4 linked regions of the Homo sapiens genome follow. The protein of the gene in region 3 binds, or shares a complex with, the protein of the main gene of each other region. Each region holds a gene or a part of one and is shown on either strand. Other genes may lie near its edges.

Evidence for each region.
Region 1: STRN (region 3) and PDCD10 share a complex: the UniProt entries of both Homo sapiens proteins name them as parts of the core of STRIPAK complex.
Region 2: STRN (region 3) and STRIP1 share a complex: the UniProt entries of both Homo sapiens proteins name them as parts of the core of STRIPAK complex.
Region 4: STRN (region 3) and PPP2R1A share a complex: the UniProt entries of both Homo sapiens proteins name them as parts of the core of STRIPAK complex.

Annotation. Positions count from the first base shown.
Region 1 is NC_000003.12:167,724,883-167,731,907, reverse strand, and holds part of PDCD10 (programmed cell death protein 10), read left to right. Parts: intron 1-6,434; exon of another isoform or gene 6,435-6,507; intron 6,508-7,025. UniProt on the Homo sapiens protein: Promotes cell proliferation. Modulates apoptotic pathways. Increases mitogen-activated protein kinase activity and STK26 activity. Important for cell migration, and for normal structure and assembly of the Golgi complex.
Region 2 is NC_000001.11:110,030,000-110,037,648, reverse strand, and holds the start of STRIP1 (striatin-interacting protein 1), read right to left. Parts: upstream 3,026-7,649; 5' UTR 3,012-3,025; coding exon 2,832-3,011; intron 2,241-2,831; exon of another isoform or gene 2,210-2,240; intron 1-2,209. UniProt on the Homo sapiens protein: Plays a role in the regulation of cell morphology and cytoskeletal organization. Required in the cortical actin filament dynamics and cell shape. Part of the striatin-interacting phosphatase and kinase (STRIPAK) complexes.
Region 3 is NC_000002.12:36,963,527-36,970,405, forward strand, and holds the start of STRN (striatin), read right to left. Parts: upstream 3,011-6,879; 5' UTR 2,938-3,010; coding exon 2,704-2,937; intron 1-2,703. UniProt on the Homo sapiens protein: Calmodulin-binding scaffolding protein which is the center of the striatin-interacting phosphatase and kinase (STRIPAK) complexes.
Region 4 is NC_000019.10:52,207,044-52,214,068, reverse strand, and holds part of PPP2R1A (serine/threonine-protein phosphatase 2A 65 kDa regulatory subunit A alpha isoform), read right to left. Parts: intron 2,810-7,025; coding exon 2,577-2,809; intron 1,384-2,576; coding exon 1,236-1,383; intron 1,115-1,235; coding exon 959-1,114; intron 1-958. UniProt on the Homo sapiens protein: The PR65 subunit of protein phosphatase 2A serves as a scaffolding molecule to coordinate the assembly of the catalytic subunit and a variable regulatory B subunit.

The sequences.
Region 1 (7,025 bases), on a different chromosome or scaffold from region 3:
TACCTAAATGTGGCCACCTGGTAGTCAGTTTTCACGTCTCAATTTAAATATCGTTCGTCAGGGGAGCCTTGCCCGCCTTCCCAAAATCAGAATAGGTTTCCGCCATGTATTCACCATACTCTGTACTCCTTTGTGGCATCATCATAATAGAAACTTAATTATTTCTGTATTTATTTGACAAATACTGTCTCCTCACTGGACTATAAGCTCCCTGAGCAGGGCCCTCTCATTTGTCATGTTTTACCCCACTACTTACGCAGTACCTGGCACATTGTAAGGGTTCAGTAAATATTTGCTGAATGAATGAAGGAGTGTATTCATGCACAGTGCTTCCAGCACTTCTCTGGGGACAGAAATAGAGAAATGAATAAAGCGGATATGCTTTCTGGATTGAAGTATATAAGAACTTTCAAATGAGCCATAATGCTTAGGCAATTTAGGTTATATGTAAAGGAGTCATTGACAGAATTTTAATATAAATTGTGGAAAAATGTTTGTTCTTTTTGGAGGTCTCTGAAATCAGGATTAATTTTCTAAGTGGAAATGATAAAGGAATCACTTTCATTTGCCGCAGAATTGCTGTGTAACACAGCATTTTAGAGACTTATCACTGTCCTGCTTTTTGCAAGCGATATTCATTATAACAAAATATAGACATGGAAGAAACTTCTAATGGACTCTTCTTCCCTAATGTTGTCTCGTTTTGCCCTAAAAACCTTTATTTCCTCTAGGTAGTAGTATTAATACTGTTTTATAGCTGAAGACATCAAGAAAATAAGTAAATTTACTTATTAAACTAAAAAAAGTTTAATTAAATTGCTAGAGTTTCCAGAACGTTGGTACTGGAACCATGGTTAGAATCTGGATCTATCTCCGTATTCTAGAATCCATAATTTTTTCTTTTTCTTTGCTTTTTTGTTTTGTTTCTTGCTTTTTAACCTTGCTATCTTCCTATGAATTATACCTTTAATATCACTTGATTTAGACAAGGTGGCTTTGTAAAATTGAGTAGTTTTTGTTTCAAAGGAACTTATATTTTGGGTTTCCTGAAAATTTTTCTAATACTTTTCTAATCTTATTTGCTTTATAGCTGGAGACTTAAGCATAAAAAGATTATTTTTAAAACATACAAACTGAATTTTAGGGATAAATTGTGTTAGGTTTTGGTCTTGGAAACAAGTTCTGCAGTCATTTGTAGTACCACGGTATGGCATAGAGTAAGGTCAACAGCCCTGAGTTTCTGTAGCCTTGTATGCCTTCATGGATTTACCAGTTTACTCTTCCACAAGATCTTGTCAAAAAGAGATTGCTGATAATTTGGCTTTAAAATTTGGTAATACTATCCATTTTATTATTAAAAACAAGTCTTTGCTAAATCCTAAACTTACTTTTTAAAAAGTCAGTGTTGATGTTACTTGAATCTTGGATAAAATTTTCATATTTACCTAGCATAACCAGTATGTGGAGGATAAAACTGAAATACTGCTTTTTATATGTTGTTGGATAATTAATATCATTATGATAGGTGTTACTAAGAATTTTAAGCCACTTACATGATAAGTAATTTTTTCCATAATATAAACTGTAAAAGTGATTTAGAAGTTAAATGTCATTGTTATCTATGTTATTGCATTTGAAATATTATAGTAAGCTGCAGTGTTAGAGGGTTATGCTTTAGGGACACACACACACACACAATGCAAAAAATGAAAGCACATTTATTATAGCAATTAGAAATAATTTATGTGCTGAAAGATAAACACTGTGGTTTGATGGTTCATTTTTGTCTGTATGAAGATGGTAATTTCAATTTTGTCATTTAAGCTACAAAATTTAAATGTGTCTTAAGTGTATTATATTACACTTATTTTTCAAGCTCACCCTTACATTTTTGGTTATGTATAACCATTTTTAAAATCACCCAAAAGTGATTTTCTGCTGTTCAGTTTCATTCTTATACAGTTGATAGAATCCAGGTTGCCTATAGGGTTAAAAGAAAAAGAAAAGAATTTTATTAACAAGCTTATGAACTATTGGGTAACAGCAGTGGAACATGTTAAGTGGTAGTCACTAACATATACTTAGGCTGGTCCCTTGGGAATAAGTTTACCAGAGGTTAGTCTAAATAATGACTTTTTGATTCATTTACTTATTGAATGCATATTACTTGTGAAATTGCCTTAAACCTTCTTTGGAATGAACTGGAACCTAATATAATAGCTAGCATTTATTGAGTATTAAGTAACTAAGTGCCAAGTCTCATGCTAATAAGCATTTTACAGGATCTCTTATAATCCTTACGACAACCCTTCGAGGTAGAGGCACTATTATCTCCAGTTTTTAAATGAGGAAACTAAAGTACAGAGAGGTTAAGGAACTTGCCTACGGTTGCAGGAAAAATTGCTTGGAATTAGGATTTGAATCCAGGCTGGCTGACTCAAGAGACCATGTTTTTCATCATTATAGTAAAAATGATGTTAGTGATTGAACTGCATTGGAGAGAGAAATTAGCATTAAGAGTTGTAGTTACAGAGCAGTTATGTCTTAAATGCTAAGGTCAGTGTGGCAGGCAGAAATTACTTAATATTCAAACTTTTTAAAAAACCTATTAGGAAATACACGTTGTAGACTAACAACTTCAACACAGCCAGTTTTTTTCTAGCATTGGAGTAGATTTCTTTTGAGTACCAGGTGAAGTGTTTGACTTGTTATGCAGAGACCATATTGAAAAAAGAAATATGTATATTATAATACAAGAGTCACAATCAGTGTGGCAAGCTACTCTTTGTGAGAGCTCACTGTGGCTCTCAGTCTGGTGTGGGGAGTGGCAGATCCACGTTTCTTATCTGTCTCATTCTGGGACTTTTGCATAGGGAATGGAATTATCACATACTGCAGTAGTTATTTTTAGTGAAGTTATTTTTTTGTTTGTTTTCTTCAAACAAATGTTCACCATGTCTGTTGAACTTGCATAGGGTAGGAGTATCATGTGAAGCAGGTACGCTCCCTGGAGTGTTAATGCCAAGTGGCAGTGTGACATGTCACTGTATTTCTTTACTGTCTCTCTTCCCTGCCAAGACTACATACCTTCAAGGGTATGTGCTGTTTGACTTTTCATCACCATATCTCCAACTAACACTGTTGCTGACTTAGACTGACTATGCAGAATACTGTGTTGGATACTAGGAAATAGAGAAATGGATACAACTTCTCTTTAGGGAGTTTATACTTCAGTAGATACAAGGGGAAAGGGTTGAAAGACCATTGTATGGACATTTAGTCTTTCTAATATACTAAGTACTTCCATGTGCATCAGTTCATTTTACAATTTTAGGTTAGAGCTGATAGAAAAATAAATGATTGTTTCTCTAACTGCCATCTGGTCCCTGGCACTGAAATGGGTCTCCCTGTCTTATTCAGTCATTCTCTCTTACTTCAAGATAGACTGGAATTCAACTGAGATTGAAGTTATGGAATGACAAAACCCTAAGATGTTACACACCGGCTGCCTCCTCAGACTTATATAAGGTTACTACAACAGAAGCCAGTTGGGAATGTTAAATGAGTCAGACCTGGCCTCTAGACAGCAACTGCACCCTATACGAGTTTAGATTGTTGCTAGGCTTTTTTTCATTTAATTCCAAAGCATTTGGAATCCTTTTTTTTTTTTTATTGAGAACTGCACATCTTTCTCTATGTCTTTATCCATATTAAAATCGGTATTTATGCAGTACTGTCAAAATTTGAGAGATTTCCAAGGTTCTACCTTATTTTTGGTATGCTCCCTTAAAAAATAAATCACACTTTTGCGAAGTGAAGGTTACAGGAGGAACAGTAGATGCAGTAAAAACAGATACTATCCTAGCCCTAATTTCTTCTTGTAAGAAATAGTATTTGTATTTGAGATCAATTGGGAGCTAAAGGTAAAGTTAAATGTCATCATCAAGATAGAACCTTGGCCTCATTAGCACCTAATGTTAAATAAGGCAGAGGCTATTTATTGTCTGGGGCTAATAGTTTCTGTCAACATTTGAGTGCCCTGTGGCAGTGTTTTTGGTGCAAAGAAATTGTGTAAAGTAATGAAAGTACCTGTTGCATGTTTTAGAGGATCTTAAGCCATTAGGAGTCATTAAGTTAAATTCTAGGTATCTAAGATTATAAGTGATACAAAGCAAGTAGCTCTGATCCAGGGTGGTACAGATTCTTTTAATTGTACCTTTAAGCAGAGAGGACCTAACACTCTGAGGAATTAAGTTTAGTTGAATTTCTAAGGGATTTTAAAGGAAAGCTTTAATTAACATCGTATTGGAGAAACTAAGACAAGGAATAATACTAATAAAAAGGAAAATAGACATGTACCTCAATTAAACACCAAACAACTATTCAACTAGGCATTATTCATGAACCATTAGGTTGAGAACTTTATGGGCAAAAGATGAACATATTCAAGGGGACAGATTTGTTTCCTGTCTTCCAACAAGTGTTTTCATTTAAATTTTACTCAGATCAGAATTTACCAAAAATTTAGACATAGGAAAAAAAAATGAGGATTGTCACAACTAAAGAGATGTATGTTTTTCCCCCTGAACAAGTTGCTTTGAAATATCGTAGGAGCCAATTGTTACTATTTTGTTACTGTTTCCATTTCCCATCAGCTAATTCTGAGGTAATGAGCTCTTTAATTTTGTTGTCAACTTTTGATTATCTTGTACAGATTATAAACCTTTTATGAATTATCTCAAGGGCTTTGATCACATCTTGATTTCAGTGTGCAACCCAGCCTGCTACCCAGCCTGCTTCTGGGCCATGGTTTCCTTTGTTAAGTTTATCTATGTACATTTAGAAAAGTAATTTTAACATTGGTTTGGCAAAAAGTTTTAAAATGCACCTGATGGCCAAATTCTTTTATGTAAGCCAAAACTAAGTGTATTTATGCATCCATTTTGGCAAATGGGAGATAAAAGGTTTTGAAAATATGCTATGTAGGTGGCCTTTATGACATTGTGATATCAGTGTTTGACTCTCATTGTGTATGTTATGCAGGGGCAGGACTAGGGTGAGGCAAGAGATATGCCTAGGGTACAAACTTTGAAGAAGCACTAACTCTCTCAGTCATGCAAATCAGAGCAAAATTTTGTGTTCTAGGCATCTGGTTTGCCTCACCCTAGTTGCAATCGATTCCATGTCAGGTTCCTAGAATTTTGGCTAAAATATTAATAACAATATGAATAGAATGGTTATTATGTGTTAGCCACTGTAGTAACTATTTTATATGCAGTTAGTACTCTTAATCTGGGGAAGTGAGTACTTCAGTATTTCTGTTTCTCACTAGTTTAGAAATAGAGATTTACAAAACTGAAATGATAGCATCCAGCTGAGCAAAAATTCAAACTGAGGTTTTTTTCCTTCCAAACTGAGCACTATCTCCTGCTGTATACTGTCTATCTATGTGTAGAAAAAGTTACTTCTTACCCATTTTATAAATTTCTGTATTAAGAAACAGTACTCTGGCCAGGCACAGTGGCTCACGCCTGTAATCCCAGCACTTTGGGAGGCTGAGGCGGGTGGATCACCTGAGGTCAGGAGTTTGAAACCAAACTGACCAACATGGTGAAACCCCCATCTCTACTAAAAATACAAAATAGCCAGGCGTGGTGGCAGGTGCCTATAATCCCAGTACTCGAGAGGCTGAGGAAGGGGAATCGCTTGAACCTGGGTGGAGGTACGCCACTGCACCCCAGCCTGGGTGACAGAGTGAAACTCTGTCTCAAAAAAAAAAAAAAAAAAAAAAAACAGTACTCTACAAAATATGTAAGTGCATACACTTGACATGGTGCAGTTAACTTTTAAGATGAGCTGGAAGTCTCAGCAGCACCAAGTTGAAGATCCACAAGCTTGTGCTGCTAAGTACCCTAGAGTTGTCAGACATATTAAAGAAGAAACCAAAGGATAGAGAGGTGAAATGACTTGTTCAGAGACAAAGATAGTTTATGAATGACAGGACCAGAATTTGAGCCCATGCTTTGAGACTTTAAATGCTTATGCTTTTTCCCTGTATCTTTCTGCACAAATTGTCCATTTAATATTTTTAAAGCATATATATATATATATATATATATATATATATATATATATATATATATAAACGATACAATGGTAAAGTGCTATATACACTTACCATTAACAAGAGATTGCTTCTAGATGTCCCTAAGTGTAAAATTCTGTAAGTACTAAACTGACAGTAGTGTATGTTCAGGGAGGTTAGGTTCCACTTAACTTTATTAAGAAAACTGGAAATGGAAGACATTGAATTATAGAAGATGTAATTTGCAAGTCAAGGAGAGAGATGTAGGTATATCCTTAAGACATCAAGCTCATTTTACTCTAAGTAGGATCACTGACTTACCCTATTCCTCTGCCTCCCTTTTTCCTAGCTTTCTCCTCTAAATCTTGGTCTCTTGTTTGGAAGTGACTAACAGCATTTTGGCATGAGAAAGCCCTAAAAAGGTACGTAAACTGTGTCAGCAAATGTTAACCCCACCCCGCTTTGTTAAATGGCCAGACTACCATCTATACAGTCTTTGTAAAAATCCATTTTCTCTAAGAGTTTGATGAGTGATTTTTTTTTTTTTTTTTTTTTTTTTCTTTTTTGAGACAGAGTCTCGCTCTGTTGCCCAGGCTGGAGTGCAGTGGCACGATCTCGACTCACTGCAACTTCCGCCTTCCAGGTCCAAGCAATTCCCTTGCCTCAGCCTCCTGAGTAGCTGGGACTACAGAAGCCCACCACCGCATCTGGCTAGTTTATGTATTTTTAGTAGAGATGGGGTTTCACCATATTAGCCAGGCTGGTCTTGAACTCCTGACCTCAAGTGATCCACCTGCCTTGGCCTCCCAAAGTGCTGGGATTACAGGCATGAGCCACCGTGCCCAGCTGATGAGTATGATTCTCTGTGTTATATTATTGAGAGAAAGCAAGGAATTGTCAGTTAATTGAAATCCTGGGTTAACCAACTCTTGGGGAGGAC
Region 2 (7,649 bases), on a different chromosome or scaffold from region 3:
ACAAGAACATCATCCATTTAACTTACCAATGATTTCACAAGGTCCAGCATGGTACCTGGCATGAATAAGTGAATGAATGAATGGTCTATACACACATATTTGTTAAATGAATAAATACAAGGTTTCTATGTATTTTGTGCAGTAAATGACCATTCCATATGATGCTATGATTCCAGAAGTCTTAACTTCTTTCTGGCTAGTGGACTGTCAACAGCTCAGGACAAAAATGAGTATTGAAACCCTCAGCTTTCCCACCTTTGTCTCAAATTTCAGTGAGAACTGACAAAGAAGGCAGCCGCCAAACAGATCAACTTCCCTCCCACACATAAGAGAAAATGTGACAAAGACAATCTTTTTCCTGCTGGAAATAGGTGATTACTGAGAACACACCATCTTGGAAGCCTTGTACTGGGAAGAGAGAAGTGAGAAACAAATAGGTAAAGTCCTTAGGTTTAATTACAGTCTACCTGGGAAGACAAAGACCAGCCACAAAATGACACAACATACCCACAATGGCCAGGCGAGGTGGCTCATGCCTATAATCCCAGCACTTTGGGAGGCCGAGGTGGGCGGGTCATTTGAGGTCAGGACTTTGAAACCAGCCTGGCCAACATGGTAAAACCCCGTCTCTAATAAAAATATAAAATTTTTTAAAAATATATTTTTACATGGTGGGGCGTGCCTGTAGTCCCAGCTACTCGGGAGGCTAAGGCAGGAGAATCGCTTGAGCCCCGGAAGTGGAGGTTGCAGTGAGCCAAGATCGCGCCACTACACTCCAGCTTGGGAGACAGACAGAGACTCTGTCTCAAAACAAAACAAAACAAAACAAAAAACATACCCACAAACAAGAACTCCACGTTGTGTTCAGAGATAACACAGTGTACACTTTCACAAGTTACTGAGCTTCGGTTTCTTCATTCATTGAATGGCAATGATGAAAATCTACTTTGAAGATTTTTAAGGACTAATCAAAATTATGTAGTACATAGTGGGCTCTCATCAAATGTGAGCCTCCCTGTCCTCCAGGCATTCACTGATCAGGCTCCCAAACTACCGATTTCAGCTATGACTAAAGAAAGATCATGGCATCAGACTCTCTATAAAGAAATGGATTTAGACAGGTCTCTGCTTAAATGTGTCCATTTGACTGGTCTTTCATGTAATGAGTCTATGAGGAAATTTTTTTTTTTGAGACGGGGAGAGTTTCGCTCTTGTCACCCAGGCTGGAGTGCAATGGTGCAATCTCGGCTCACTGCAAATCTCCACCTCCCAGGTTCAAGCAATTCTCCTGTCTCAGGCTCCTGAGTAGCTGGGATTACAGGCACCAGCCACCACGCCCGGCTAATTTTTGTATTTTTAGTAGAGACAGGGTTTGATCACATTGGCCAGGCTGGACAGGAACTCCTGACCTCAGGTGATCCGCCCGCCTCGGCCTCCCCAAGTGCTGGGATTACAGGCGTGAGCCACTGCACCCGGCCTCTATGTGGAAATTAAAGGGTACAAAGAGAAATTACAATTCGTCAGAGGGTATCTATTTGACCATTCGTAGCTACTCTGGAAAATTTTAAACCATTTTTCAAAATGATAACTCCTCTCATGATGAAGGTAGGTTCACCCCCCTGCACTTTCGTAATCTTCCACTTGAAAAACTGAGTAGTTAACACTGATGTCCGTCATCCCACCATGCCAGGGCTCCTAAATGGTCAGTGTTTTTGTTTTTTTCAAATAATTCACTCCAAGCTCAAATTACGTCTACTTCGGGCTTGCCAATTGTTGACATGTTTTCTCAGGGGTTTAGCCTTGCTAACAAAAAATAAAAGCTTCTGAGGAACTGATTCCACAGGTCTAAAGGTAGTATCATTGCTCTTTGGTATGAATTGGTACATTATGCTTGGACAACTAGGAATTCCCTCTCATTAACTTGGCTGATCAGTTTGGCTGCTGATCAATCTAGGAGATGGCATAGTAAGTGCTCTGGGAACCTGCTCATTAAGAAGCCCTAAAACTCCGCGACATGAGTATCTTCATTCATGAATTCTGCAAAAGGAGGCAGTGGGAGGAATTCCTTAACTTGGGGTGAGGTTACTAGTCAGTTCCAGACTATGCCATCTCCAGAACGGCAGGAACGGCTCACTAGCGAGACAGGAAGGAATGTTGGGTCCTAACGCATGCTTAAAATGTCTATTTCTCATCTTTAACAGTTCAGTATCAGGCGCACTGGGCACAATAGCCCACCACAGGTACTGTTAACCCATGGCCTGATCTGGCTCAGGTCAGAAGAACAGGACATGTTTCCCCCTCCTACTCTACTCTCAATGATAATTAGCTCGGTCCGGCTCTAAGTTCCTTCCAGATCCTCGCCGGCGCCTTCCCTGCCCACACGCGCCTTCCTCTGCGAGCGGCAGGACCCAGGAGCTGGAGCCCGCGTGCCAGGGACAGACGCCCGAGATGATTAGGTTGGGGGCGCGGCAGCCCAGCGCCCTGGAGTGCACCAAGACCCCCGACTCCTCACCCCCGAGCTGGGGCGAGAGCGGCTTCCCCAGGGGCTAGGGCCTCGAGGCCACGCCCACAGTCGGGGCCCAGGGGAGCAAACCAGCAGTCGCCGGCCACGGGAAGCTCTCCCGGGCGGCGGAGCTAGAGCAAGGACTCATGCTCCAGACCCCAGGAGCTGCCAGCCTCGCTTCCTGCTCCTTTCGCTGTATAGTGACAGTTCTCGGCCGGACTCTACCGAGCCCTCCGGGAAGCCCAACCTGGCCCCTAGAGTGGCCCCGGGCCCGGGACCCCCGGCGCCGCCCGACCCGGTGCGAGCCTCGCCCCCCGAAGCTCCTGACCTCTGAGTCTTTGCGCTGGTTGCGGTTGAACTCGCGGGCTTTGCCCCCAGGCAGGAGGCCCGCGGCGGCCCGCGGTGCCCCGGGTGGTGGCTGTGCGGCTGCCGGCGGCGGAGGTGGCGGGGGCTGGGGCTGTTTGTTGTTCACGATCAGTGGGCCCGGACCGCCGACTGCCGGCTCCATCTTGGCTGCTCCACACCCCCAGCTTAACTCGCGCACAGCCGCCGTGATGCAACTCTCGCGTGATTTTCTCCAGGAAATTTCCCTGGCCGCCATATTAAGTGTGGCGGCCAGTGTTAGAAGCCATCTTGGCTGACCAATACCTCGCGATATTCTGTCTGCAGTCCTTCCCTTGTTGATCTTTTTAGTTTTCCACCTTCCTTTCAGTTTCAGTTTAGATGTAATTTTATCTGTGAGGCTTCCCTTAGCTTCTTCAGTCAGTTTAGTTACCCCTCCTTCCTCTAAATCGCTTTGCACTTATAACTCATAGCCTTGTTCAAGGCTTAGGCGGAATTTTGTAATGAACAAAATGGATAGGATCCTAGTCTTCACAGAGTTACCGTTGTGACAAGTGCTTGTCATTCATTCATTCAACAAACATTTAATAAATGTCTCCTGTGCACCAAGCAGTGGGATAAAATGAGGAACAAGTGTCTGCAGTCACGGTACATAACAGTGCTTGGTGGGTCAGACAAACAATAGACAAATATAGAGAAATAAATGCTGAAAAGTGTTAAAGGAAAATTTGTTCATGGCACTAATTAAAGATGGTAAGGCAGACTTTATGTAAGAGAGCCCATGGTGATAGTTACAGGGACCACTACAACCAGATCTTGCAGTGAAGAAGAGGAATTAGACTCAACTCTGACTCCAACAAGATATAGTGGGGATTTATAACCAAAGAGCAGGATGAGGGTCAGTGGACGGAAAACTACTAAGAGAAACATCAAGGATAAGAAGTTTCTTGCTAAACTGACCTAACAGGATTATTGCTGAAAGCAGGACAGGGTGCTAAGATGTTGAGGGTGGTCAGATACCGAGTGCTATGGTTTGACTGTGTCCCCCAAATTCCATACGTTGGAAACTCAATCCTAAAGTTCATATGTTGATGGTATTTGGAGGTGGAGCCTTGAGGGGGTGATTAGGATTAGATAAAATCGTCAGGGTAGGGCCCCTGTGATGGGACTGGTGGCTTTATAAGAAGAGGAAGAGTGATCTGAGCTGGCACACATGCTCTTGCTTTCTCACCGTGAGAGGCTCTCTACCATGCAGTTTAAGAAAGCCCTCACCAAATGCAACCCCTCGACTTTGGGCTCCCCAGACTCCAGAACTGCAAAAAATAACTTTCTTTCCTTTATGAATTACCCAGTGTTTTGTATTCTGTTATAGCAACAAAAAATGGATTAAGACGCCAAGAGTGGAGAGTCCCTGCACAAACTGGATTCAACAAGGACAGAAAGGAAGCCCAAACGGTTAGTCCTAGTAGGCAGAGGACTCACAGGAGCCTGACTAGAGTTTTGGCCAAAGAAGAGAATCTTTGTCAGAAGTAACAAAAATTGAGAGGTTAAAAGGTGGCAGTGGGGCGGGGGGCAGGGGTTGGTGGAGGCGGAGAATGTGGCTATAATATAAGCATGCTGCCCAAGGAAGGCAGGCCTGAGGGTGTGATTTTAGATGAGTTCTGAAAGAAGTGAGGAGAAGCCCTGCAAAGTTCCAGGAAGGGCACACAGACAGATGAAACAGCTAAATGCAAAAGCCCTGATGTTAGTGTCTGGAATTGAGTGAGCCAAGGGAGGGATAGTAATTGATAGAGCCATATAATGATAATGCAGGGACCAGAAGAATGCAGGGCCTTGAAGGTAGTGGGAAGGAGTTTGAATTTTATTCTAAGTGAAATGGAAAACCATTCGAGGGTGTTAACCAGGGAGATGTTATGGTGTGATGTTTACAAGTTCAATCTGGCTGCTTTTGGAGAAGGGATTGGAGAGTTGCAAGAGTGGATAAGGCAAGACATGTTAGGGGACCATGTAGATGGAGATGATGGTGCTTGTACCAGAGTGGAGCATTGGGTTGATATTTCTATATTGTGTAGGTAGGGGGACAGGATTTGCTGGAATCTTATCAGCTGGGTAGGGGAAATAAACAATGACCCCCTTGATCTAGGTTTGGGCAACTGAGTGGATGGCTGTATCACTTTCATAAATAAGTAAGCTCGAGAGTAAGAAAAACAGGTTTAGAGGAAAGATCAAGACTTCAGTTTTGGACACATCAAGTTTGAGATACTCATCAGACATCTTAGAAGTGTTGCGTAATAATAACTCTTACTATTATCTGTTGTTATACTGTGAAATCCTTAAAGGCATTTTATCCATCTTTGTCTCTCCAGCTTTACATATTGCCTGCTTTACACCCCAGGCTCAAGTCCAGAAAGTCCCTGTGATACAACTCTCCAGTGATTTCCCCTGAGGTCCAACCTAGTAGGTGCTTAAAAAGTCTTTGTTGTAAATTAATAAATTAATCCAAAACCACCACACTGCTATTTCCTCCTACCTATCTTCCTGTGCCTATCATAAGCTGTATCACCCGGGGAAAAACATTTTTCAGCTAAATTTAGAACAGGGAGGGTTTTGGTTCCATAATTCCACTTCTAGTAATAGATTCTAAGGAAATAATCAGATTTAGATAAAGATAGGTGTATGATAATATTCAGGCAATGGTGTTTTCAATAGTGTAAAGTTGGGATCAACCTAATTTGAAAAATAGCCAATAAGAAAATGGCTAACTTTGAGGGGCCAGGCACCGTGGCTCATGCCTGTAATCTCAGCACTTTGGGAAGTTGAGGTGGGAGGATCGTTTGAGCCCAGGAATTTGAGACCAGCCTGGGCAACAGAGCGAGACCCTATCTCTAAAAAAAAAAAAAAAAATCAAATTAAAAAAATTTTTGAAAAAGAAAAATGGCTAACTAATGGAATGGGGCATGCATAAGACAGAATATACAGATCTAGAAGGAAAAAGAATCCCAAATGTGAAGGAGCAGAAGCACAGCTGGAGAGCTCACTACTCTAACTTGCTAGGAAACTTTGCGAAAAGCACAATCCAGTAGAGAGTAGAAGCTGTAGAAGTGTCTTCATGCACTTCTCTTTTTTTTTTCCTTCCCCATCTGTAAAATGAGAATAATCCCACCTGTATTTTTGTCAGAGATGTGTGAACCACAGCAACTCCATCTTGAACAGGGGCTGGGTAAAATGAGGCTGAGACCTACTGGGCTGCATTCCCAGGATATTAGAGCATTCTTAGTCACAGGATGAGATACGAGGTCAGCACAAGATACAGGTCATAAAGAACCTGCTGACAAAACAGTTTGCAGTAAAGAAGCCAGCCCAAACCCACCAAAATCAATATGGTGATGAGAGTGACCTCTTGTCCTCCTCACTTTTACACTCCCACCAGCACCATGACAGTTTACAAATGCCATGGCAACACCAGAATGTTATCCCAGATGGTCTAAAAGGGGGAGGCATGAATAATCCACCCGTTGTTTAGCATATAATCAAGAAATAAGCATAAAAATGGGCAACCAGCAGCCCTCGGAGCTGCTCTGCCTGTGGAGCAGCCATTCTTTTATACCTTCACTTTCATAATAAACTTACTTTCACTTTACCCTATGGACTTGCTCTGAATTCTTTCTTGTGAGAGATCTAAGAGCCCTCTCTTGGGGTCTGGATTGAGACCCTTTCCTGTAACATTTTCAGCCATGGTGGCATGCGCCTGTAATCCCAGCTACTCAGGGGGCTGAGGCAGGAAAATCGCTTGAACCTGGGAGGCAGAGGCTGCAGTGAGCCGAGACTGCACCATTGCACTCCAACCTGGGTGACAGAGGAAGACTCTGTCTCCAAAAAAAAAAAAAAAAAAAAGAAAGAAAGAAAGAAAGAAAGAGAAAAGAGAAAACTATAAAGCATTGTTTGTTTTGTTTGTTGGTTTGTTTTTTTAAAAAAAGGAGAATTATTACCAAGAGGTGATACCCAAGGTGAGAAGCCCTTCCTTCACCACGAGCAGTCATTGTTCAAGAGACTGGAGGAAGAAATTTCCTATTTGAGCCATTCTAGTATTGCAGGAGTTGCAAGAACATAGTGGCTGCTCCAGTTGGGCTCTGTAGAAGGAAACTGGCATGTATTCTGTGCCTACAGGGTGTCAGGTACTGGGTAAGATGTTTCACATTCATTGATACCTAAGTATATGCTGGGATGCAGAGTGAGCCTGTTTCTAGCAATTTCCATCCTAGCCCTGGACTGTAAATACATTGCTGGTCACTGAAATGCTCAGTATTAAAGTAATCTGTATAGCATATAAAACATCTGTGGGTCCAGTCTTACCCTCTAGTTACTGTGTCACATGGAGTTCTCTCCATTAATGGTTATGAGAAGAGGATAATATTAATAATGTTTTGGTTAATTAACTAATAGGGCAGATAACTAATAGTTAATTCTGTCTTCCAAAGGGACCAGCCAGCTTCACTCTGTCTCAGGTCAGATTAACTTATAAAATCTCAGCTTTCTTATATAAACATGAATTAGTCAAAAGACTAAGTCAAAGCTGGTCATGGTAGCTCATTCCTGTAATCATAGCGCTTTGGTAGGCCAAAGTGGAGGGATCACTTGAGATCAGGAGTTTAAGACCAGCCTGGGCAACATAGTGAGACCTGATCTCTACAAAAAAATTATAAAATTAGGCATTGTGGCGCGCCTGTCATCCCAGCTACTCAGGAGTCTGAGGTGAGAGAATCGCTTGAGCCCAGGAGTTCTGGGCTGCAGTGAGCTGTGATCC
Region 3 (6,879 bases):
GGGACAAAGACCAGAGATTACTGCAAACTCTTCCCCCCAAAATATATCATATTCATCCTGTTAGGAAAATGACACATTTTTAAAGTTTCTCTGTGGAAACTTTAATTGGAACACAAAACAGAAAATGCTGTCAAAAAAGTAGTGTCCTTGGCCGGGCACAGTGGCTCACGCCTGTAATACCAGCACTTTGGGAGGCTGAGGCAGGCAGATCACTGAGGTCAGTAGTTCAAGACCAACCTGGCCAACATTGTGAAACCCCGTCTCTACCAAAAATACAAAAATAAGCCAGGCATGGTGGTGCATGACTGTAATCCCAGCTACTTGGGAGGCTGAGGCAGAAGGATTGCTTAAACTTGGGAGGCTGAGGCAGAAGGATTGCTTAAACCTGGGAGGCGGAGGTTGCAGTGAGCTAAGACTGCACCACTGCACACCGGCCTGGGCAACAGAGCGAGACCCTCTCTCCAATAAAAGGAAAAAAAAAAAGGAGTCTCTTTAATATGATAAGCACCCATGGGAAAGCTACCTGAAGTTAATAAACATTTGCCACAAACAACCCAGGAAGGGGTGTTTGGAGATGTGTGCATAAAAACTGAAGATCAACTACAGTTACCAGTAAATTGAAAAGTTTAAACGAGGAGAGGGAGTGAACGGGGCGGGGCGGGGGGAAGGATGGGTTGGAATTCCCCAACTTCTACAGGTAGAAAGGTAAGCATTGTTTTCTGGTGTGTGTGTGTGTTTTGTTTTTGTTTTTTTTTTTTTAACCAAATTAGTGTGAGTTATCTATATTCCCAAAACTGGAAAAGAAATTAAATTTTAAGTAACTAATACAAAAATCATTCCCCACAACTGCACAACATTAAAGTTAAACTTTGCCTTTAACATTTCCTTGAATCCTGAAATCCACACCTTTTATAGAATGCGCTGCTAATAAAGATCAATCTGTAAGTATTCAAATTTGTTGGAGACTATATAAACAAGGTCAAAGAAGACTTGCAAATATCAGATAGACTAGATCGACTAAATACTACAGCAATATAACAATAGGAATGAAAAAGTTGCCAAATAATATAAACATGTAACTACAGACTTACAAGGAAATCATAGAAACTACTGGTCACTCCCTAACTTCATTCAGCTGCTCATTTGTCATCTCTCAGAGGCCTACCCTGACTACCCCATCTAAAATAGCTGCCCCTATCACACGCTATTCCTGAACTCTGACTTATTTCTTCCTCACAGCAGTTGCCACTATAAGCCATTATATTCTATAGGCGCATTTGCTGGACTGTTTGCCTCTCCACTAAAACATAAACTCCATGAGGGCAGAAGCTTGGTCGGTTTTCTTTCAACACAGGGCCTAGACACACAGCTGGCACTCAATACACAGGTGCTGAATAAAATACATGATAAAACTGAAACCCAGAGAGGTTAAAGGATTTCCTCAAGGTCACAGAGCTAGCAACAAACACAGCCCTTACTATAACCTTGTCTACTACAGCCTTGTGTGTTCGCTCTTTCCACAGCCACTTCCACTACACCAGAGCCTGTTCCAGCACATGATTCTATTTAACAGATTTCTCCTCTTCTTTTTTTTCTTAAGCGCCAAATACATGTTACCAAAAAAAGTGACACACTGGGTAGCATTTTAAACTCAAGTGTTTTGCCAACTAAAACTATACTCAAATTTCATAAGTATACAGGCTTAGCCCGTAAAACAGAAAGGCACAACTATTCATAGTTCTTTAAGTTCCTTTTGAAATTGGTGTGTATGCCCTGGAAGTTTTAAGAACAACCACTGAAAACCTATTCACCAATTCTGAATGGCTTGTAAAGTATCAGCCTCACTTTCATTCTTTTCAGAGCCCACAGTTATCTCCTCCCTGGATATACTTTATCTTGCAGATTATGCAAGGCAATGTAACTAACTTCAAAGTCCCTTTAGTTCCTTTTAAAGCACAAGAAAATCTCCCAAAACACTGAACATAAAATTAACCCTTGGGAAGTTTCAGATTCTGAGAACAGGAACCACCTCTTAACCATTCTCTCTGACTGCGATCATCTAGGTCCTTCATTCAAAATGCATTAATTGGAAATACCTAAAAGAAACGTGGGAGGGGGCCGGGGGGTCGGAAGAAAGTGGAGAACAGACATTTACATATATAAAAAAAGGGATCTGATATATGAATAACACTTTTGCCCAACGTCAACTTCTCGCCTCGACTCAAGGCCTGACACAACTTCTGTTGTCTTCTTGATCACCTTCCTTGAAGAGAGGGGCCAAAGCCGGCACGTTCTGCGGAGACTGTCTCTAGACCTAGGAAGGGGCACACCAGGGCAGCGGACGATTTGCTCCGCGTCTCTCAAAACTACTGCCAGCCCAATTAGTAAACCGAGAGGGCAGCCCTGAGATGCAGGATGGCCAGAGAGTTGAAATGAGTCTGGGAGTTAAGAGTGGGATGGGGCGGACGAACAGGCGTGGGGAGGGTAAACAACGCACCAGGAGCGGGAGTGAGAACAGGGTCGAGGTGGGGTCAGCGAAAGGCAAAAGGCGAAGAGAAGAAGGGGACGGGGCTCCGGGTGGGATGGGCGGCAGCAAAGGGGGAGGGGACGCGAGAAGGCTGGGGGAGGGGGAGAAGGGTCCGGGGCGGGGCGGAAGGGAGCAAAGAGGCGGGATGAAGACGGCCAGGCCGGGAGGGTCTTTACCTGCAGCTCCGCCCGCTCCACCTCCCACTGGGCTCTCTCCACCTCGAAGCGGGCCCACTCGTGCTGCAGGAAGTGCAGGATCCCCGGGAGACTGTACTGGGCTCGGGCCGCCCCCGCCGCAGCCGCCCCGTCGCCGGCCGCGGCAGCCTCCGCCAGAGGCCCGAGCCCCTTGGCACCGCCGGCGCCCGGGTGGTTGTTGCTGAAGAAGACGCCGGGACCCGCCTGCTCGTCCATGGCGGCCGCAGATACCCGGGGAGCTGCCCCGGCGCCCAGCAGCGGAGGCAACAGCGGCGGCAAGCAGCGCCTCCTCCTCCCTCCGCCGCTCCCGCCCACACCCCAGTCAGCAGGGAGCAGCCTCCTGGGCGCGGGGGCCGGCCGAGCCCGTGACGGGCCGGGAAATGGGTCAACTGCGGCGCGCTGGCGGCCCGGGGCTTGCCGGGAAATGTAGTCGCGGGGCGGGGCGCGGGCTAGCGCGGCCCGGGCGGCCTGTAGGGCTGTGCCTCAGCTTGGGCGTGGCCTCGGGCCCGCCCCGCCCCGGCTCGCCGCGTAGGGGGCCGGCTGGGCGGGGAGAGCGGGTTTCCTCTGGGGCCGGCTGGGCGCGGGCGGGCGGGTCTCCAGTCTTCCTCGCACGCGGAAGTTCGCGGGCGGCGCACCCTGTTGCATTCAAAAACACACACACACACACACACACACACACACGGAAGTTGTCACGCCAAGATACCTGCCCGAGCTGCACATCTTTTAAGGCTTCCTGGCCGTTCTGTGAAGGAACAGGCTCAAAGCGAGCTACCCGGTGCGGCCGCGGGACCGGGGTTCTCCCGCCAGCTGCCCTGCGTGCTCTCGCTTCGGCTTCGTGTTCGGAGTTTCTCTCACCCTAGACGCTCCTCCATTCTGCCAATCTGCGGGTCGCTGTCGCTCTTGCCTTTCTCTTTTGACTCGAGGGGCTCAAACCTGTTACCTGACCAGTTTTCATTTCTAAGGAACGCCGATCACCTTTCTAAGACAACGCCGCAGCTTTCTGCTGCTGCTTCCAAATTGTGGTTTGTTGACAGCCCATCTGAAAAACTGCTCCGTTGAAGTTTCTTTCCCTTTGCAGTCCTCCTGCAGTAAATCCTGTAAAAGTTTTAGCATCCAATAATAGATGTTCTGTTATTTCGGTCTCATTTTTCCTATCTTATTCCCGCTGATTTTTACTCTACTTAATTGAACAAATATTTTGATTATCGGTTTTCTCTTGCGCTGGGAATATTAAGATAAATGACATCGTTTCTGTCATCAAAGATTGGCGTATAATCAAATATCACAAAGGCTTAATTTAAAAGCTACACCACCTTGAAAAAGCAAGTTCCCTTTCTGCTCCCTAGCGCGGTCTTAGATATCCTGGCCCCTCTCCGTTTTCACTTGTCCTGTTCCCAGTTTCTTTCACGATTCACCTGCCAACTGGCAACAGCATCCGCCTACCAAAGGTACACCAAAGTCCTTTCAAGTTACTCTCTGTAAATATTTGCCTTCTCCGAAGTCTGACAATATGTCACTATAAATTCACACTACAACAGTGGCAAAAAGGAAGGCCCCTGAAAACAATTTAACAAATGCAAATGAAATTAAGCACTTATTTTGTCACCCTAACAAGTTATCTGAAATTCTTACGTTTTGTAGGACGTACTTGTGGGTTATCAGACTTGATGGCCATGAAAAAATGTAAAGATCTAGGCTGCTGAGTGACATGTCAGGGAAAGACATCCTGTCCCTGTCCTCTCTCCCCTCCCCCCCTTTCCCATGGCTACTTGCAGAAAGGACAGGAAACACATTGTGTCTGCTCTGGTTGCAAATAAAGATGGAGAACTCTCTTCTCTCGCTTAATTAATGTTTCTGCTTTATGAATTCATTCTTTATTATCATCAAAGATTGATCCAGGCCTGGCCAAATTCCCTGTGCCATAACTTATTTTGGCTGTCAGTGTCCTTTGAGATACAGCCCAGTCTTCTCATTTACAGCTCAAGGAACTAAATTCCAAAAAAATTGAGACTTGTCAACAATGAGGCCTTGAGTGAGACGACATATCCGACAATTCCTTTAAGTCAATTCATAGCAGACACAAAATGTAATTAAATGTATAGATAATCTGGACTACCACACATATACAAAAACTATTTTAATTCGTAGTTCAACTTTATTACTCACAATACTTTTTTTGCTTTACGAGGACTCATTTACATTTTGGCCAGGCGCCATGGCTCACGCCTGTAATCCCAGCACTTTGGGAGGCCGAGGCGGGTAGATCACTGGAGCCTGGGAGTTGTGGGCAGGAGGCAGGAGAATAGGGTCTGGAGGCAGGGAACGTAAAGTAGATTCAGGCTGACTACCTAGAACTGAATCAAATGGAAATACTTCAGCTATAACAGGAAATGTCCTCTCCACTTACATAGGGCGCACACCAACTAAATGACGTTGTAACTTTACTTCATCCTCTTCATTTACATAGGGCGCACACCAAGTAACCAGTGGAAACCTCTAGAGGGTATTCAAACCCCAGAAAATTCTGTAACGGGACTCTTGATCCCCTATGCTCGGGCCTGCCCCTGCACTGTGGAGCCTACTTTCATTTTCAACAAATCTCTGTTTTTGTTGCTTCATTCTTTCCTTGCTTTGTGCGCTTTCCCCAATTCTTTGTTCAAGATTTCAACAACCTGGACACTCTCCACCGGTAACAGTTGGAGAACAGCCTGGCCAACATGGCAAAACCCGTCTCTACTAAGAATACAAAAATTAGCCAGGCGTGGTGGCACATGCCTGTAGTCCCAGCTACTTGGGAGGCTGAGGTACGATAATCGCTTGAACCCGGGAGGTGGAGGTTGCAGTGAGCCAAGATCATGACACTGCACTCCAGCCTAGGCAATACAGTGAGACTGTGATTCAAAAAAAAAAAAAAGTTTTAAAAAGAAGGCCTTCCCTTAGAGTTCTGGTGCCCTAAGTTGCCTTAAAACTATAGGACTATGAATCCCATAATTATCACTTATTGGTCCTGGCACGGTGGCTCATGCCTGCAATCCTAGCACTTTGGAAGACCGAGGCGGGTGGATTACCTGAGCTCAGGAGTTCAAGACCAGTCTGGGCAACACTGAGAAACCCCATCTCTACTAAAATACAAAAAAAAATTAGCTGGGCGTGGCAGCTTGCGCCTGTAATCCCAGCTCAATTCTCTCATTTTTTAATATGGGAATAATAGTCACCTAATAAAGTTGCTGTGAAGTTAAATGGAAGAAAAAAAGTAAATCCCCTCTCATAGTGCCTACTATATGGTATATTACGGAATAGTGATAGCTATTATTGCAATACAGTTCACAAGAGTAACTGAAACAATATATGTAAAAGAAACAGTCCCTGGTAAATTCTAGGGGCTCAATCATTGTTCTCTCCTTTCTCATTCCCTATTCAAAACTTTAAATTAGTAGAGTTAAAATAATCTTTAAAAAACAAAAACAGGGCCGGGTGAGGTGGCTCACGCCTGTAATCCCAGCACTTCGGGAGGCCGAGGTGGGCAAATCACGAGGTCAGGAATTTGAGACCAGCCTGGCCAACATGGTGAAACCCCGTCTCTACTAAAAATTAAAAAAATTAGCTGGGTGCAGTGGCAGGTGCCTGTAATCCCAGCTACTCGAGAAGCTGAGGCAGGAGAATCACTTGAACCTGGGAGGAGGAGGTTGCAGTGAGCCAAGATCGTGCCACTGCCCTCCAGATTGAGCGGCAGAGGGAGACTCCGTCTCAAAAAAAAAAAAAAAAACAGGCCGGACGGCGGTGGCTCACACCTATAATCCCAGCACTTTGGGAGGCAGAGGTGGGTGGATCACCTGAGGTCAGAAGTTTGAGACCAGCCTGGCCAACATGGTAAAACCCCATCTCTACCAAAAATACAAAAAAAATTAGCCAGGCATGGCGGTGTGCACTTGTGGTCCCAGCTACTCCAGAGGCTGAAGCAGGTGAATCGCTTGAAACCGGGGGGCGGAGGTTGCAGTGAGCCAAGATCACGCCACTGCACTGTAGCCTGGGCAACAACAGCGAAACTCCGTCTCCAAAAACAAAAACAAAAACAAACCATGAAAACAAAAACAACCCCCCCCAAAAAAAAAAAACTAACGTCTATGCCCAATCATTAAGCCTCAGATCTCAACGTGT
Region 4 (7,025 bases), on a different chromosome or scaffold from region 3:
CCAAGGCCCCACATCTGTCTGTCTGTCCCACACCTGTGACACTTTATAATCAAATTTCCCCTAAGTCAGTCTTCCCCTTCAGACTGCCTAGCTCCATGAAGGCCAGGAATGATCCGAATTCACTGGCCCAGCAAATAGCTGGTGCTCAGCAAACATGTTTGTGGGATGAGGCAATCTGGATCCCTGTGGAAGGAGCACTGTCCTGAGAGTCACAGACCTGGAGTCTTGTCCCCTTTCTGCCTGGCTGGTAGTGTCACTCTGATCAGTTAATTAAACTTTCCGGGGCTGGGCGCGGTGGCTAACACCTGTAATCCCAGCACTTTGGGAGATGAAGGCAGGCGGATCGCTTGAGGTCAGGAGTTCGAGACTAGCCTGGCTAACAACATGGTGAAACCCCGTCTCTAATAAAAATACAAAAACTAGCCGGGTGTCGTGGTGGGCATCTGTAATCCCAGTCCCTCAGGAGGCTGAGGCAGGAGAAATGCCTGCACCCGGGAGGGACAGGCTGCAGTGAGCCAAGATTGCGCCACCACACTCCAGCTGGGTAACAAGACTCTAGCCTGGGCGACAGACTCCATCTTAAAAAAAAAAAAAAAAAAAAAAAAAAAAAACACCAAAAAACCCCACCTTTTTGGGCTGTCTTCCCCTTTGTGAAAGGACAGCTTGATTATGTCAGGAACACCCCACATGTGCTACCCTTCTCTGCTCCTGTGGCACTTTCCTCCACGTAGCCTTAACTTTGCCTCAGAATCTTTCTCAAGGCAGCACTTTAAGATGCCATGTCAATCAACCAGGATTGGCACACGAAGCGAGACGCAGTTAGATGATCATAGAGATCTTATTGCTCAAACGCCCAATGGTTCCATCGGCCTAATGGAAACCTCAGCTCCTATATGCTTCCCTTCTGAGAGTGTCAGTGTCCCCACCAGTGGGACAATGTCAACGGTCGCTCATCTACCTCTGTGAACTTGTCAGCCACCATGTAGCGGACGCGCCAGGACTTGTCTTCAGCGGCCTGGCGCAGAGTGGGCATCACCAGGGCCTCCAGATCCTCCTGGGGCAGAAGCTGGGCGATGTTCACGCACGCCTCCACCGCCAGCAGCCGCACCGAGTCCTAGGGAGAGGAGAGGAACAGTGGGAGGGCAGCAGAGGCCTTGCTGAGCTCTGGGATTCTCTTTCATGGGCAGGAACCACCAGAAGGACGGGAGAGCAGAGGGCCAGGAAGCAAAACTCACCTGCTCGTCAGAGGCCAGGTTGGAGAACATGGGGATGATCTCACTCTTGACGTTGTCCAGCTCCAGCACCTTGGCAAACTCCCCCAGCTTGGAGGCTGCGGCCCGCCGCACCATGGGGGTGTCATCTGAGCACAGGTTCCGGAAGTACCTGGGAGTCGGGGACGGGGATCCTGAGGCAGCAGGCAGTATGGCAGAGAGGAGCAAGCACAGACTCTGCAGTTGTGTGGGTCCAGGTTTTAGCTGAATGACCTTGGGCAAGTGATGACCCCCTCTCTGTCTTCCCAGCCCTATGAAACGGAGCTGATAGTAACAGTACCTACCCCACAGGTCCGCATGAGGTTTAAATGAAAATAGTGTGTGTGAGACACTTCGCAGATTGCGCATAATAAATCTAGTCAATGCTAAGTGCTGACGATTACATCATTCCCATAAAAATTGCTTAACCAACGAGCCAGGCACAGTGGCTCATACCTGTAATCTGAACACTTTGGAAGACCAAGGCAGGAGGATTGCTTGAGCCCAGGAGTTCAAGACCAGCCTGAGCAACATAGTGAGACCCCATCTCTGCCAAAAATAAAAAATGAGCCCAGCGTGGTGTTGCACACCTGTGGTCCCAGCTATTTGAGAGGCTAAGGCAGGAGGAATGCTTGAGCCCAGGAGGTTGAGGCTGCAGTGGGCTATGACTGCACCAGTGCACTTCAGCCTGGATGACAGAGCGAGATCCTATCTCAAAAAACAAACAAACAAAAAACTGCTTAACTAAGAGGCAGGTCTAGAGCCACAGAAAGGCTTTATTTTTCAGCAGCAATTGCTTCGATCAAAGGCGGTGGGGGCCAGTGTAAGTATCTAAGCAAGTGTACAGCCATAAACCAGAGTTCTGGAGTGAGTCAGGCTCAAACCCGGGCTTGACGGTCAATCGTTTGCAAAGTAGACGAGCAGGAGGCTGAAAACTGAGGTGGTTTATCTGCCAAAGGCACTGGACCTGGGACAGGCTGGAGATACCATCAGATGTAAGTTGCTGAAAGTTTTTATGTTCCAGATTTTGCTCTAAGCACTTTATGTGTGATAATTCTTTTAAATCCTCACATTAACCAGTGGGAAGGAGGACCTGTCATCATCTCAATTCCTAAGTGAGCAAGGGGGCAGAGGTGGGTAAACTGACACGTGGCCGTGTCCAGAGACCAACTCTCGAGGATGTGGCCTATCAGGTGGTAAGCAGGAGTGGGAGTGGAGAGAGTTCAGGGGCATTTGGGCCCCAGCTAGACCAAAAGGAGTCTGAGGCTTTAGAGAAGGTTGGAGCTGAGATGGGAGCTTGGAGCTTCCAAGGAGGCAGAGACTCACTGTCGAAGTTCCGCCTTCACAGCACTGGACACTCGGGGGTAGCAGACGGAGAAGAGGCCGCAGGCCGAGGTGCGGGAGGTGAACCAGTCGCCGCCCGCCAGCCGCTTCACTAGCGGCACAAAGTGCGCCTCCAGGTCAGAGGGCGAGTGCTCGTGTGAGATGGCCCGTAAGGACTCCACTGCCTTGTCCCGCACCACTGTCTCCTCCACTGTGGCCAGCGACTCCAGCGGTGGCTGTGGTGAGAACACAAAGTCACTGGACAGCTCCCTCTCCACCATCCGCAGCCCTGGAGCCCCATCCTGCACCCCATCATGGGCTCATCTCCTCAGAGAAAACTTCCCTATTACCCATCCCGACCTTCATTAAAATAGCCTTTAAAAATGGTTGCAATGAATGACTCAAAGGAAAAACGTAATATTATGCCAGCCAGCAGAAGGTCTCTGTCAGCGTGCCTTCCACAAAGGTTCTTATTTAGGGGTCCTTGAAGGAGTTTCACTGGGGTCCATAAACCTTAAAATTACACACGTTGCTTTCTGAGGAGAAAGTTCTTAGCCTCTCAAAGTGCAATGATCATCACTGACACTGTGTAGAACATCTACTCACTGTGTGTACTAGGCAGGACCTCCGTGTTGTACCAGGGGTGCTTGTTCTTCCTCACTGAATTCTATAAAGCAAGTCCTGATTTTAAAGAAGAGAAAACGGGCCGGGCGCAGTGGCTCACGCCTGTAATCCCAGCACTATGGGAGGCTGAAGCGGGTGGATCACGAGGTCAGGAGTTCAAGACCAGCCTGGCCAATATGGTGAAACCCCGTTTCTACTAAAAATACAAAAAAATTAGCTGGGTGTGGTGGTGCGCACCTGTAATCCCAGCTACTCGGGAGGCTGAGGCAGAAGAATCCTTGAACCCGGGAGGCAGAGGCTGCAGTAAGCCGAGATCGCACCACTGCACTCCAGCCTGGGCAACACAGCGAGACTCCGTCTCAAAAAGAAAAAAAAAAAAAAAAAAAAGAAGAGAAAACTGAGGTACAGCCTGGCTTGCCCAAGCTAGTAATAGCTACAGGTCAGGATCGAAAACCTGACCTAAGCTTCCCATGAACAGTTACACACAGCTCTGGTGACTGAATTGGGATCTCATGTTTCTGGGGGACTATGGGGCTCGGGACTGCTCGCTGGTTGTTACTGTGGGCCTAGAATGACTGTGCTCCTTCAGATACATACGACTGGCTCTCCACTGTATCCCCAGAGCCCAGCAGCACTCTTAGCACAAGACAGGAACTCTTAATTAGTGACCTACTGAAGGGAGACTCAACTTATCCCAATATGTTCAAATAAAGGTGTGGAGGTCTCTGATCTGAAATTCAACTTGGGCTGACAGGTATTTAAAGCAGGAAAAAAAAAATCATAAATGGAAATGCCTCCAGGGCTCAGTCAAGTAACAGAATGATGCCATCAGCCAAGGTGACAGGCAGGGGTGGCAGGAGGCATGAATAGGAAGAGGCAGGCACTGTGGCACCCTGGAGGGCATGTAGCCCAGGGAGGGCAGGTGCTCCCCAGCTCCAAGGACTGTCACTATGGGAGAATGCAGCTGGCAATAAGCAAATCTGGTTTTCCAAATGCAGCCCTCAAAAAAACTCAAGAATCTTGTATGTGAGAAGTCTCATGTAACACATGCTACAACATGGATGAACCTTGAAGATGTTATGCCAAGGGAAATTAGCTAATAGTCATAAAGACAAATATTTTCTGATTCCACTTATATGAGGAATCTAGAACAGTCAAACTCCTACGGTGGCTGCCAGGGGCTGGGGGAGAGGGAAGGGGGAGCTCATGTCCAATGGGTTTGGAATTTCAGTTTGAGGAGGTGAAAAATTCTGGAGATGGAGGGTGATAATGGCTGCACAATGTGAATAAACCTACCGCCACAGAGCTACACACTTTAAAATAATTAAAATAGCACATTCTATGTATATTTTTACAGTAAAACTAAGAATAAAAACAAATGTTTAAAAATAGCATTTAAAAATAGTTGCAATGAATGATTCAAAGGAAAAATGTAATACTAAGCAAGCCAGCATAATGTCACTGTCACAGGTCCTCATGCTATCGTGACGTCTCAAGTTCAGGACAGTATCATGGGAGTGTGACCATAGGTGCGGTGTGACTGGGATACTGCAGGGACAGAGTTCCTCTTGTTCACCTCAGTTCTCCCACCACCTGGGCTGGCACAGAGAAGGTACTCAATCAACACTTGCCAAGTGACTACCGGTGGAACTTACGGCAATCTGTTATAAGGAGGCCTGGGACAGAGGCTGAGCAGTAATTATGTAAGCCAAGGTTCTCTTCTCCTGTAGGTTACTGCAGGAAGTAGTTCTCAAAGGATGATCCCTGACCACCCTGCAGCAGAATCACCCGGAGGCCTATCCCAGCATGGACCAAAACAATCAGAATATCTGGAGGCAGGGCCCAGGAAGGTACACATTTAAGAAACTGCAATTGATGCCTTTGCACAGTGAAGACTCACTACTGTGAAGCCTCTCTGTGAAGTCTGGGGGCAAGGGTTCTCAAACCTGGAGACCACACAGGGTAGGGAAGAGTGTGAACCGCCTAAAATCCTGTGTACTTTTATAAGAAGAGGGTCCAGAATTTAACAGATTCTCAAAGGGATCCATAATTCCAAAAGAGTTAGGAACTGCTGGCCGGATGCGGTGGCTCACGCCTGTAATCCCAGAACTTTGGGAGGCCAAGGCAGGTGATCATTTGAGGCCAGGAGTTCTAGACCAGCCTGGCCAACATGGTGAAACCCTGTCTCTACAAAAAATACAAAAATTAGCCAGGCATGGTGATGGGTGCCTGTAATCCCAGCTACTTGGGAGGCTGAGGCTTGAGAATCACTTGAACCCGGGAGGCAGAGGCTGCAGTGAGCTGAGATTACAACACTGCACTCCAGCCTGGGTGACAGAGCGAGACTCTGTCTCAAAGAAAAATAAAAATAAAAAGAGCTGCTGACACAGAAACAACCCTCACACCCAGGCACGGTGGCTCACACCTGTAATCCTAGCACTTTGGGAGGCCGGGGTGGGTGGATCACCTGAGGTCAGGATTCCGAGACTAATCTGACCAACAAAGTGAAACCCCGTCTCTACTAAAAATGCAAAAATTAGCTGGGTGCGGTGGCACACGCCTGTAATCTCAGCTACTCGTGAGGCTGAGGCAGGAGAATCACCTGAACCTGGGAGGCAGAGGTTGCAGTGAGCCGAGATCCCGCCACTGCACTCCAGCCTGTGCAGCAAGAGTGAAACTCCATCTCGGGAAAAAAACAAAACAAACAAAAAAACAATCCTTACACTGCAGCTACAGGAGTCTCTGTAATTAATTCCATTTCACCACTGCTGAGAGCAAGGGCCGGGAGTGGGTCTGACACATCTCTGGGTTTCCATAGCCTAGAGACCTTGCTCAATGTTTGTGGAATGAAGAAACTACACAAAGCCATTTTCTATTTCTTATAACCTGTCAAAATCCAGGTTAACAGCCACCTCCTCCAGGAAGCCTTCCCTGACAACTTCCCATCCCACCTAAGCAGGTTAGGCGCCTTCCCTGGGTTTAAGGACCCCCCTGCCTCCCTTGTTTACAGCTCTGAAAGCAACCAGGAGCCCTCTGAGGATAGCACATAGGAGTGGCTAAGAATTAGGGGCCTGGGATCGAATCTGGACTCTGCCTCTTCCCAGCTCGGACAATTCACTTAAATCTGCCTGTGCCTCAGTTTCCTCATCTGGGCAATACAGCTAACATCAGTATACAACTGTGTAAGGCTCTTGGGATGTGCACTGCAGGCAACGAGCAAGCACAAGCTATTCTGATCTAACTCTTCTCTGGTTTCCAGCACTGCCTGGCCCAGACAGCCCCAGGATGTGTCTGCTGGCTGACATGAACGTCAGGCACATCGGTCACAGGGAACTGCTTCCCAAAAGGAAGCGTGGCTTGACTGGGACTTTCCTCACTGAGAATGTTCTGTTGGGAGACCCTGGCCAGGTAGGAGAAGGATCCCTGGGTCCCAGCCCAGCTCCACAGCAAGCCTGAGTCCCAACCTCAGTTGCAGACCCTGGGGGCCCTTGTTGAAGCCTTGCGGTTTCATAAAAATAATGTCTTCTGCTCCTAAGTCCTCTGAGAAGCTACTGAAAGCTATGAATTCACTGCTCAGAAGTTCCACCTGACAAATACCAGGCAGGGGCTACAGATAATTTTGTGAAATTCAAGGAACCCCTTCTAGGCTGGCCCCCAAACCTCATCATGCTCATGTTAAGCCCTGTTTTGTGTAAAATGTATGAAACGATCTATTTGTATACAATTTTCTGTGTGTCCATACGCACAAATTATACACATATGCCCAGATGAAGGCTGAGATATCCGAATTTAATGGTAACTATCAAGTTTCTTTACATAATGCTATTT